Linked DNA regions of Homo sapiens: region 2 is linked to region 1. A link means that fine-mapping ties the variant in region 1 to the expression of a gene that starts in the linked region. Tissue or cell type: fibroblasts. Region 1 holds a variant in brackets; the other region holds the start of a gene. All regions are shown on one strand. Distances are from middle to middle.

Region 1 (5,377 bases):
GAAGGAAGCAGTGGAGATGGTAAAGAGATGACTTTTAAAGGTAAAACCAGCAAGATTTGCTGGGTGGATCATGTGTGGAGTGCGAGAGAAATCAAAGTTGACTCCAAGATTTTTGGCCTGAGAGACTAAAGAATGGTGTTGCTGTTTATTACATGGGAAAAACATGGCAAGAGCAGGTATGGGGGAGAAAATTAGGAGTCTGTTTTGTATGTTTACATTTGAGAAACCTGTTAGCCATCCAAGTGGAGATTTTACATGGATAGTTATTTGCAAGTATGGAATTCAGGAGAGAGGTCCAGATTGGAGATATCAATTTAAAAGTTATCAGTGTATGAAATCACCAAGGCAGTGAGTATAGAAAGAGAAGCTGTCCAAGGAACTAAGTACTGGGGGCACTCCAACATTTGAAGATGAGGAAGATGAGGAGGAACCAGCAGAGGAGAATGAGATGGGGCAGTCAGGGAGGAAGGACCAAGAAAAAATGATGTCCCCAAAGCCAAGTGAGGAAAGTGTTTTATGGCCAGACACTGTGTCTAATAGGTCTCTTAAGATGTGGACTAAGGTGGCTCCTGCCTGTAATCCCAGCACTTTGGGAGGCCAAGGCAGGTGGATCACCTGAGGTCAGGAGTTCAAGGCCAGCCTGGCCAACATGGTGAAACCTCATCTCTTCCAAAAATACAAAAAAAATTAGCCAGGCATGGTGGCTCACACCTGTAATCCCAGCTACTCGGGAGGCTGAAGAAGGAAAATTGCTTGAACTCAGGAGGTGGAGGTTGCAGTCAGCCGAGATCACACCACTGCATGTCAGCCTGGGTGACAGAACGAGACTCTGTCTCAATAAAAAAAAAAAAAAAGATGAGGACTGAAAATTGACAGTTGGATTTAGCACTGTGCTGGCAAGATCAGTTTGGGTGGAGTGAGTGGTGGGGATGAAAGCCAGATGGGAGAATATTTGAGACAATAAGAGGGAGAGGACTCGGGTTACCAAATATAGACAATTCTTTTAAGTTTGGCTGTAAAGTGGAGCCAAGAAGTAGGGTAGTGTCTGGAGAGGGATGTGAAGTAGAAGGAGAGTTTATATGTTTTTTATTTGAGGTATGTATTACAGTCTGTGTGCTAATGGGCATGGTCCAGTAGAAAAAGAGCACAATTACTGGATAATTGTGCTCTTGTATAAATGTATACTGGAACCCTTGTATAAATGAGCAGGGATGGGATCTGGTTCCAAGAGGCAGGATTGGCCTTAGGTAAGAGACTGGACAGTTTATCCATAATAGCAAGAGGGAAGGTAGAGTGTATGGGTACAGGTGTGGCAGGTTTGTTGATATGATGGGAACTCAGATGTCATTTTATGATTGCTTCTATATTCTCAGTGAAATATTAAGGTAAGGTCATCAGAGAGTGAGGGGTAGGCAGTATTGAAGGTCTGAGAAAAAAGAAGTAGAAAAAAGTCATCTAAGAGAGTAGGAGAGTGACTGGACTAGGATTTGAAATACTAGAATATTAGAATTATTAGGCAGTACTCTTTGACATTAGTGGTGATACATTTTAAATGTAGCCAGTCAGTTCATGTATTTTTTCTCCAGCTTCATCTGCCACCCTGGTGCTGGTGAGGAGTAGGAAGAGTTAGGTTTTTTGTTTGTTTGTTTGTTTGTTTGAGACGGAGTATTGCTCTGTCACCCAGGCTGGAGTGCAGTGGCGCGATCTCGGCTCACTGTAACCTCTGCCTCCTGGGTTCAAGCGATTCTCCTGCCTCAGCCTCCTCAGCTGGGATTATAGGCACGCGCCACCACGCTCAGTTAATTTTTGTATTTTTAGGAGAGACAGGGGTTTCACCATGTTGGTGAAGCTGGTCTCAAACTCTTGACCTCGTAATTCGCCAACCTTGGCCTCCCAAAGTGTACAGGCATGAGCCACCGCACTCGGCCGGAAGAGTTAGTTTTAACCAGATGTGGGGTTTTGCCAGAGGAGTTCCAGAGAGACACAGTCAAAGATGTTGAGAGTTATGGAGGGGCACACTTATTGGTAAGGATAAGGACTGCTGGGGGGTGATAACCATGGGGATGTGGAGCTGAGGTAAGCTGAGGACTGGGCTGTGAGAAGAAAGAAGGTCAGGGAACTCAGAGTAAGGGGATCATCACTACGGTTCCTGGGTGCCAGATTCATGACTCTTCAGCAGTTTGACCAGTAAGCATTGAAAATCTTGTAAAGAAAATAAGAAACAGCAATTGTGTAAAAATTTTTTAAGGCGTGACAAGTTATTTGCTTGTTTCACTTTTTAGACTCAATCTTTTGCAAAAAATGATACCAGAAATGGCATTAACAAAAATACATGTTCTTTGGTTTAGACTGTGAATATGTTTAAGGACAGCCAGCAAATGTTTTATTTAGTAACTTTTGATTGGTTGATTTTGTTTAGTTAGTTGATTATCATTATTATGGGTTTGTTCATAAACTGTCATATTAGGACCATTCACAATGTGGATCTCAAAACAGATTACGATGAAAATATCAACCAAGAAACTCTTTTTAAAGCAGGCTGAGAAATACAGGTAGCATAGGGCAATGTTCAGCTCCTCAGGATAAAAATAGGTGTGGAATAAGAAATATTATTAAATACTAACTGAAATTGACTTAGAAGTCATCCTTCGTGCAGCTCGTGTTTTTATCCCCTACAGCCAACCGCTGTGTTTCCAAAACATATCACGTTTATCTACTTCTCTCCATCTCCACAGCCACAACTCTAGGCAAAGCTGCCATCATTTCTCACCTAGATTGCAGCTATTAGCGTAGTCCTAGGCTGAGAGAGCTGCTTGGAGACCTCAGGTCCTAGCTCAAAAGTCATCTTTCAGAACAGTCCTTCTGAACCATTTCAGTTAGCCTTCCTGATCCTCCCCACCTCCTTTGCTTTAAGTTTTCTTCCTTATAGTACTTATTGCTGTCTCGTATTACCTTCTTCCTTTATTAATTGGTTTTTGTCTGTATGCCACTTTTAAAATAGGGCAGGGA[G/A]CTTGTCTGTCTTGTATACTGCTTATGCCTGTTGTCTAGAACAAGTAATTCATGGCGTAGGAAATGTTCAAAAATATATGTCAAAAGAACAGTAAGTATATTGAAAAACAAATATTCATCTGGGAATCTTGAGATCAAAAAAATTCTCTGATCTGGTGGGTTGTGGAGATTGAGCACCCAGGGATCCTAGGAGAAGCCAGTGAGGAAAAGACAGCATAACAGTCTTAAGCCTAGCGCAACTGAAGAGAAGGCCTCCAGCACCTGAAGTGGAGTTAACCTGAGGCCTGGTGTCTCCTGAAGAGGAAACTCATTTGGTTACCTAAAAAAAAAAAAAATCAAATTTTCATTTAATTTCAGAGATGACTGATGAGCAGATTTTTTGTTTTGTTTTTAGCTGGGGGAGATTAGACAGCAGAGAACTCTGAATACTAAGCTCAAATGAGTTGATAGGGAAGAAAAGGTGAAGAAGGGGCTGCAAAGGATCAACGGAAGTATCAAAAATTCATTTTCAGCCCCCCCTTTAGTTGTGATAAGGGGATTAGAGTTTGGGAGCAAGAGGATACTAGGTAGCTGGAGGAGAAAGAGGGAACTACCAAAGAAGGGAAAGCAGAGATTGATGTGTGATCCAAGTATATCAAATTTGTGTTAGCTATGTACTGTACCTGGCAATGGCAGCCCAGTGGGGAATGAGATCTGGGAGAGATTCTCTGCTCTTCAAGAGCTTTACAGTGTCTAGTGAGAGAGACAGGTGAAAGACTAACTCCAATACAGCATAATTGTTGGTTTGAAGTAAGTTTGAGGGGTGTCTTTATGGAGTAGCTGGCCAGCCAGCTCTGGGATAGGATTTCAGGTGATGGCCCACAGCTTTATCTTTACAGAGACACAATTTCAATCAACTGGTAGGTGTCTAATCTCTTAAAAACTGGCATGTAGCAACCATACTCATAAAAAAGACTTATACGTAAGCCAAAATATCAATTTATTAATATCTAGTGAGGAAAGCTACATGAATAGCTGAATTTTAATTAGAAGATATCTTGGTGAACATTGAGAAGAATAAGAGGAAATAATTGGATGATGAAATATTGCCTTCTTTATTGTTTGTTTATTTTTAAGACAGAGTCTCACTCTGTCACCCAGGCTGGAGTGCAATGGTGCAATCATGGCTGACTGCAGCCTGGACCTCTTGGGTTCAAGTGATCCTCCCACCTCGGCCTCCTACTAGCTGGGCCTACAGACGTGGGCCATCATGCCTGGCTAGTTTTTTGTATTTTGTAGAGATGGGGGTCTCACTATGTTGCCCAGGCTCGTCTCAAACTCCTGGACTTAAGCGATCCTCCCTCCTTGGCTTCCCAAAGTGCTGGGATGACAGGCGTGAGCCACTGCACCTGGACTTTCTTTAGTTATGGTACTGTCATTTTATATATCTGATTTTCTAGGAAACACTCTTACCATTTTATGTCAGTATTTTCAGTTACACCCTTAAGTTTTGAAGTTACCGATGTACATACAACCTGTGGTTATAATGGATGTATATATAAAGATAATAACAACAGTTTGGGCATGATGTCTTATGCTGGTAGTCCTACCTACTCAGGAGGCTGAGGAGGAGGGATCACTTGAACCTAAGAGTTTGAGGCTGCGCCACTGCACTCTGGCCTGACAGAGCGAGTCACTGTCTCTTAAAAAAAAAAAAAAAAAAAAGATAATGGCAACATCATTAAGGAAATCATTAATTTTGCCTGGGTGTGAGAATGGAGACCAGGGAAATTTTCAGGGAAGATAGGACATTTTCAGCTAGGTCTTGAAGAATATGTGAGGTTCAGTTGAGGATAGAGGTAGATGGGAATGAATGCATTTTTTCTAGAGAGAGGGAACATAATAAGCAAAGGAATAGAGAGGCCTAAAGTTTGTGGCCTGTTTGGAGTATAGGCTATGTGATGGGGAGCAGTCCGAGATAATATAGGAAAACTAGCTAGTAAGGACCAGCTTCTCTGAACTGTGTATCTTATGCTGAGGAGATTGGACTTTCTCTTGTAGGTCAGGGATGGGCAAACTTTTTCTGTAAAGGGCCAAATAGTAAATATTTTAGCTTTGCAAGCCATCTGGTCTCTGTTGCAATCACTCAGCTCTGTCATTGTAGCACAAAAGCAGCCATAGGCAATACATAAATGAATGAATGTGAATGTGTTCAAATAAAACATTTACAAAGACAGGCAGCAGGCCGAATTTGGCCCCCTGTAGTTTGCCTAACCCTGTTGTGGGTAATATGAGTTATATAAGGCTTTTGGGCCAGAGAGCAATATGATCACATGTATGTATTAAAGAGAGAATGGATAAGAATCTGAAAACTCTGAGCCCACCCTAT
Region 2 (5,377 bases), 22 kb before region 1:
ACGGATTTAAGAGATTCATGTTTATAAGCTTTGTGATAAAAATATGATAATGTATGCCTGAAGAAAGGAAAAAATCCACCATCAAACTGCATTATTTTAGAAAAAGGAACTAAAATAAGATGTATACATTCGTTAGGAAAAATTTGAAATGAATAGCGAAAATATATTTAATATATGCCTAACAGCCCATATTGGAAGGTGAGAGAGGAAAAGTGTAATAGATTAAGTCAGTCAGACACTGAATTAAAAAGTCTCTCTGACCAAAGCAAAAGAAGCCATATTGCAGAGGAAAGTCCTTCTTAAAATAAACCATATCAGCTGGGTATGGTGTTGCATGTCTATAATTTCAGTACTTTGGGAGGCCACGGTGGGAGGGTCCCTTGAGCCCAGGAGTTCAAGACCAGCCTGGGCAACATAGGGAGACCCTGTCTCTACAAAAAAAAAAAAATTAAAAAAATTAGTTGGGTGTGGTGGCATATGCTTGTAGTCCCAGCTGCTCAGGCTACTCAGGAGGCTGAGGTTGGAGGATTGCTTGAGCCCAGGAGGTCACGGCTGCAGCGAGCCATGATAGCACCACTTCACTACAGCCTGGGTGACAGAATGAGATTGTCTCAAAAAAAAAAAAATTGATGAGATTTAGGAGACACATCAGTCTGATCAGCAGTGGAAATCACATTAGAATTTGACTCAAGAGAACTGTGTCTCATCTCTGGATCTCCAATTACTGGCTCTGGGACCTTATACAAATTACTTAACTTTTCTGAGTCTTCATTTTCTTATCTATAGAAATGGAGGATACCAGTTTATTCTTTATAGAGTTTTGAGGACTAGATTAGTTTTGAGGATTAGATGAGATATTACAAATGAAGTGCTGGCCCAGTGGTTGGTATGTATTATAAGTATAAACATTCTTATGAACCTGAATTCTGTAGGAAATTGCTCTCAGAAAGCTGTTATCTCCAAGAGATTGACCCAAAGATGGTATAGAAAATAAAATGCAATGGCCACAAGATTGAGTGTTGACTGTCCTCTAAGTATTTGCAATTGAGAAGGGTTTTTTCCTGGCCAAGCACGGTGGCTCACGCCTGTAATCCCAGCACTTTGGGAGGCCAAGGTGGGCAGATCATGAGGTCAAGAGTTCAAGACCAGAATGGCCAACATGGTGAAAACCCATCTCTACTAGGACTACAAAAATTAGCTGGGTGTGGTGGCACGTGCCTGTAATCCCAGCTACTTGGGAGGCTGAGACAAGAGAATCACTTAAACCTGGGAGGCAGAGGTTGCAGTGAGCCGAGATCACACCACTGCACTTTAGCCTGGGCGGCAGAACAAGACTCTGTCTTGGAAAAAAAAAAAGAAGGGTTTTTTTCCCTTAAAAACCTAAACCATCAGTGATCTCCATTGCTGAAATTAGTGGGTGCCAGTTGCATGAAATTCCAGGATGTTTATCTAACCTAGGGTCCTCCCTCCTCTGAGGGGAAGAAGTAGATGCCAGGAGAGGTTTAAACCATGAAGTGGCTCGCACACTGGGTGTAGCTGGAATGTACCTCAAGCAGGCACGTCAGTCCACTTCTTTGGCTGCATTTTTGAAAGGTGTGTCAAAGTTTAGCATTATTCCTGGGGATGGTCTACTCCTGAAGAGCAGGCCAGGAAAATTCCCAGTAAGTGACTAAATGAATAAATGGAAAAATGTCGCAGTTCCCTCTCCTCAGAGCCTCGCACAAAAGGTAGCCATTACATAGGCCACTGTCAAACAGTCCTCTGAGAGATTCCCACACTCTTCCTCTTCCCTCTAGACTACCCATCTGCCCCAATCCCCCCCTTGAGCAGCCTATTCTGTTTTTTCTCCCACTACAGCAGCCAGCCCCACCGCCTGGTGTAGAGCTTGAAGATGGAAAGGGAAGATAGGATGGGCAGAAACTGCCCTGCAATAGCTACATCATCCCCGAAACGCATACCTAAGAAAACCACTAAGGTCACCACACCCTGGAGGTGACATTCGCATGATTTATGCCTCTCTTGGGCTTTAGATTTTATTCCTTTACTTTTCTATAACTCTGTCATGACCAGTTTAAAGGCCCCAATGTCATGTCCTCGCATTAACAACCAAGGCTACAATGCAAGCCCTGCCATGTGCGCTTCTTTACAAAAGGTCAAAGTAAAAAGGAAATCTATACCAAAGAGCCTCTAGATACTATTTCCAGCTTCGGGGAAGTCCATAGTAGGTACTTCCACGGGTAGAGAACATTATCTTAGACTGGGATAAGGGTTGGTATTCGCAGTCCCCTTCCTACGTTCTGCCCATTGTAAAGACCAGGGTCAGCGTTGAGCCTCGCCCTTCTTGCTAGAACTACAACTCCCAGGATGCCCCGCGGCACGGGAGTGCGCACGCGCGTCGGAGGCGAAGGAGGAACCCACCGCACCTACAGGGCGGTCGAGTGAGGGAGCTGCTGGCGGGTGGGTCTGGCAACTCTTTGGGAGGCCGACGCGGGCGGACCGGCGGGTGCTGGGAACCGAGCCTCGGCTTGCGGCCGGCAGTTTCCGTGGGTCTGTGAAGAGGTCGGCGGCCCCTGCGGGCGCCAGTCAGGTAAGCCCAGCCCGGTGCTTTCCAGGAAGTCCGTCTGCGGGCGCGGGTAGGGAGTCGCACCGGCCATGGTGGCTGAGGAGGGAGAGGTTGCTGCCCGCCGGCCGCCCGACTCCAGGCTCCTTCCCGACGGGTCCGTCTCGGGGAGCAGGGGTGCGCGGGGGCTGCTTCTGCGCGAACGGCCCGGGCGGGGGACGTGGGGCGCGCTGGGCGTCGCCCGCCGGTCTAGGCGCGCGAACCTGGCGTTCCCAGTGAATCACCCGCGGCCCGGGCGCCCGGGTTCGGGACCGGCCCCCTCCCCTCCCGCTGAGCCGCGGCCGAGCTGGCTCCCTGCACCCTACCCAGCGTCGCCGGGACGCGATCACACCGAGATGGCACCGAGCCTCCTTCAAAGGCTTCGGCTTGTTGAAAGTGGGGCGGCGGAGTGGGGGAGCCAAAACTTAGGGCACACCCTTTTTGTGATTGAAATGTGGCTGCCCTTGCATTCACCGGTTTGATCTGTCTGCTCTTAGAATTAAGTTCCTAGCTCCCAGGCAGCACAGCTGGATCCGGCTGGGAAGTTTGTGTGTTAGTTTGTTTTGAGGACGTGACTGTGTCGTTATATTTTTGCTTGCGGGGGATGGTGTGTTTCCTCCGCAAGCCTGCATTCTGATTACAAACAGAAATGGGAAACAGCCACAGTTTCTTTTTTTCTTTTTAATGTTTAGTTAAGAATCGCATTTCCAACTTGCCCTTGGCCTCTGTTAAAACCAAAAGTCATCTGGCAATGAACACTGCAGTAAAACTTACCCCAGGAGGCCATACTTCAACAGGAAATAAGCCTGTGGAGATTTAAGTTAGTTATGTGCAGCCTCCCTTGGTTTGTAACATTTTCATGCAGCTCATGTCTCCTCTCCTTTTCTGAGAAACCTTCAGATTAATTTTTTTGGCAGATTAAATTGATTAATTGGCCCGTCAAAAATATATTAGGCTTGGAAAAATAGCTTTGCCAAGTCTCATTTACTCTTGCTAGTTTCTTCTTCCTAGGCACCTTTTCACCTTTAAGAGTCAGCAATCATAATAGTTACAGTCCCCTTTCTTACACATTCCTACGAAAGGAACAAAACGAATTAAAATGTCCCAATATATTTTAATTCTTTGAGCTTTCTTTGCTTTTGCAACTCTCAGAAATTGTAGTTTGCTGATCTTTAAAATTAGGTTGTTGGACCAGATGACCCCCAAGATTATTCTGCCCCTAAATATCTCTCGTTTTTAAAAGTTCATTTATTTTGCTCATTCAGGAAACACTGGCGATATGCATTCCAAGTCCTATGATAGACATGAGAAAGAGCAAACATGAGTTCTTGAGAATGCTGTAGACCTACTGCTCAATTTTATTTAATCATATTTTTTATGATTAATTCCTAAATTTTGTGGTATATCCAATATGCCAACCTACATTGTAATTAATAACTTCATCTGAAATTAAATAGGTACAGGTCAAATCCCATTCAAAGATTTTTCGTGTCTTAATTACTGGCCCATTGAAACAAAACAGGTTTGGTACAACAGAAAGGCCCTGAATGGTGGAGGGCAGTCTTTTCAAACACTTTAGCATGCATAATTCATTCAGGATATTCTAGGTTTGAAGTAGAGTCCAAAGTCTGTATGTCTGATGGGTGATGCTGTCAGAGACCATACTTTGAATGTCAAGTGTGGGGAGGTAATTTTAGAGGTATTTTCAGGTGTTTTTAATAGCAATTTAAATACTGGTACTGATAACTGATATTAGATACATAATTGATGGCTTTTTCAACTCTCAGTTTTTTAAAATACTGTAGTCCTATGAACTCTAACAAGAACAATTGTCATCATAAGTTTTTCTCCTTCTTTCCTTTTCCTTTCTCTTTGCTAGTTTTTCTTTTTTCTCTTTGCTTTTTTTTTCTCTCCTCCTCTTCCTTCCTTAATTGTTTTCATTCACATTAATTTGGCAATTCATGAATTCAAGTATGTGTCTTGCCCCATTCTGTATTCTGTACAAAGCAATGTTTCAGGCTCCTGGTGAATATGTATAAGACATGAGGCCAGGGCCGGGCCTGGTGGCTCACACCTGTAATCCCAGCACTTTGGGAGGCCAAGGTAGGAGGATTGCTTGAACCCAGGTGTTTGAAATCAGCCTGGGCAACATAGCAAGACCCTGTCTCTACAAAATAAAATAGATTAGCCAGGTGTAGTGGTGATGCCTGTAGTCCTAGCTACTCAGGAGGCTGAGGCAGGAGGATTGCTTGAGCCCAGGAGTTTGAGGTTACAGTGAGAGACAATGATTGTGCCACTGCACTCCAGCCTGCGTGACAGAGTAAGACCCTGTCTCTCTAAAAAAAGAAAAAAAATTATATATATATATATATATATATATATATGAATGACATGGTTCCTGTCTAGGACCTTATTCTCTTTGGGATTAGGCAGATATACTTATGTATAGTCCACAGCACTTGTAAGAGCCACCTGTAGGGAATAAAAACGTGGTAGATATTCAGGAGAGATATTTTCCAGTTGCAGGAGTGGGGAACAACTAAAGTCAATATTTTTTTCCATTCACTGGTCATCTCTTTCCCCAGGCTATACTGTCTATACTGTTTGAATGTATGTGACATATCTACATAGAGTATAGTGGAATTCTGTAAATTTATTTTATTTGGAACCTGAGATGAGCCAGATACATGAACATAATTAGAACCGGATGTGGTGGCACGCTTCTGTGGTACCAGCCACTTGGGAGACTGAGGCAGGAGTACCACTTGAGCCCAAAAG

Alleles and levels. Alleles are on the strand shown, and positions count from the first base shown. SD is a standard deviation of normalised expression in the study named.
As copies of G replace A in region 1, the expression in fibroblasts of the gene that starts at base 2,404 in region 2 goes down (small effect, 0.23 SD a copy in GTEx).

What was found. PIP is the estimated chance that this variant, and not a neighbour inherited with it, causes the effect.
Region 2: TMOD3 starts here. The variant in region 1 is fine-mapped to the expression of TMOD3 in fibroblasts (GTEx, PIP 0.98).

What each region holds. Positions count from the first base shown.
Region 1 is chr15:51,849,098-51,854,474 of GRCh38, forward strand. The region is part of intron 1 of TMOD3 (tropomodulin 3); the gene reads left to right. Among named protein-coding and RNA genes, the nearest start is that of TMOD3, 22 kb to the left of the region's middle. The variant G/A (reference allele first, on the strand shown) is at 3,010.
Region 2 is chr15:51,827,250-51,832,626 of GRCh38, forward strand. It overlaps TMOD3 (tropomodulin 3), which reads left to right and starts at 2,404. Exons shown (of 10, transcript NM_014547.5): 1 at 2,404-2,587. RefSeq lists silencers at 2,309-2,463, 2,684-2,963.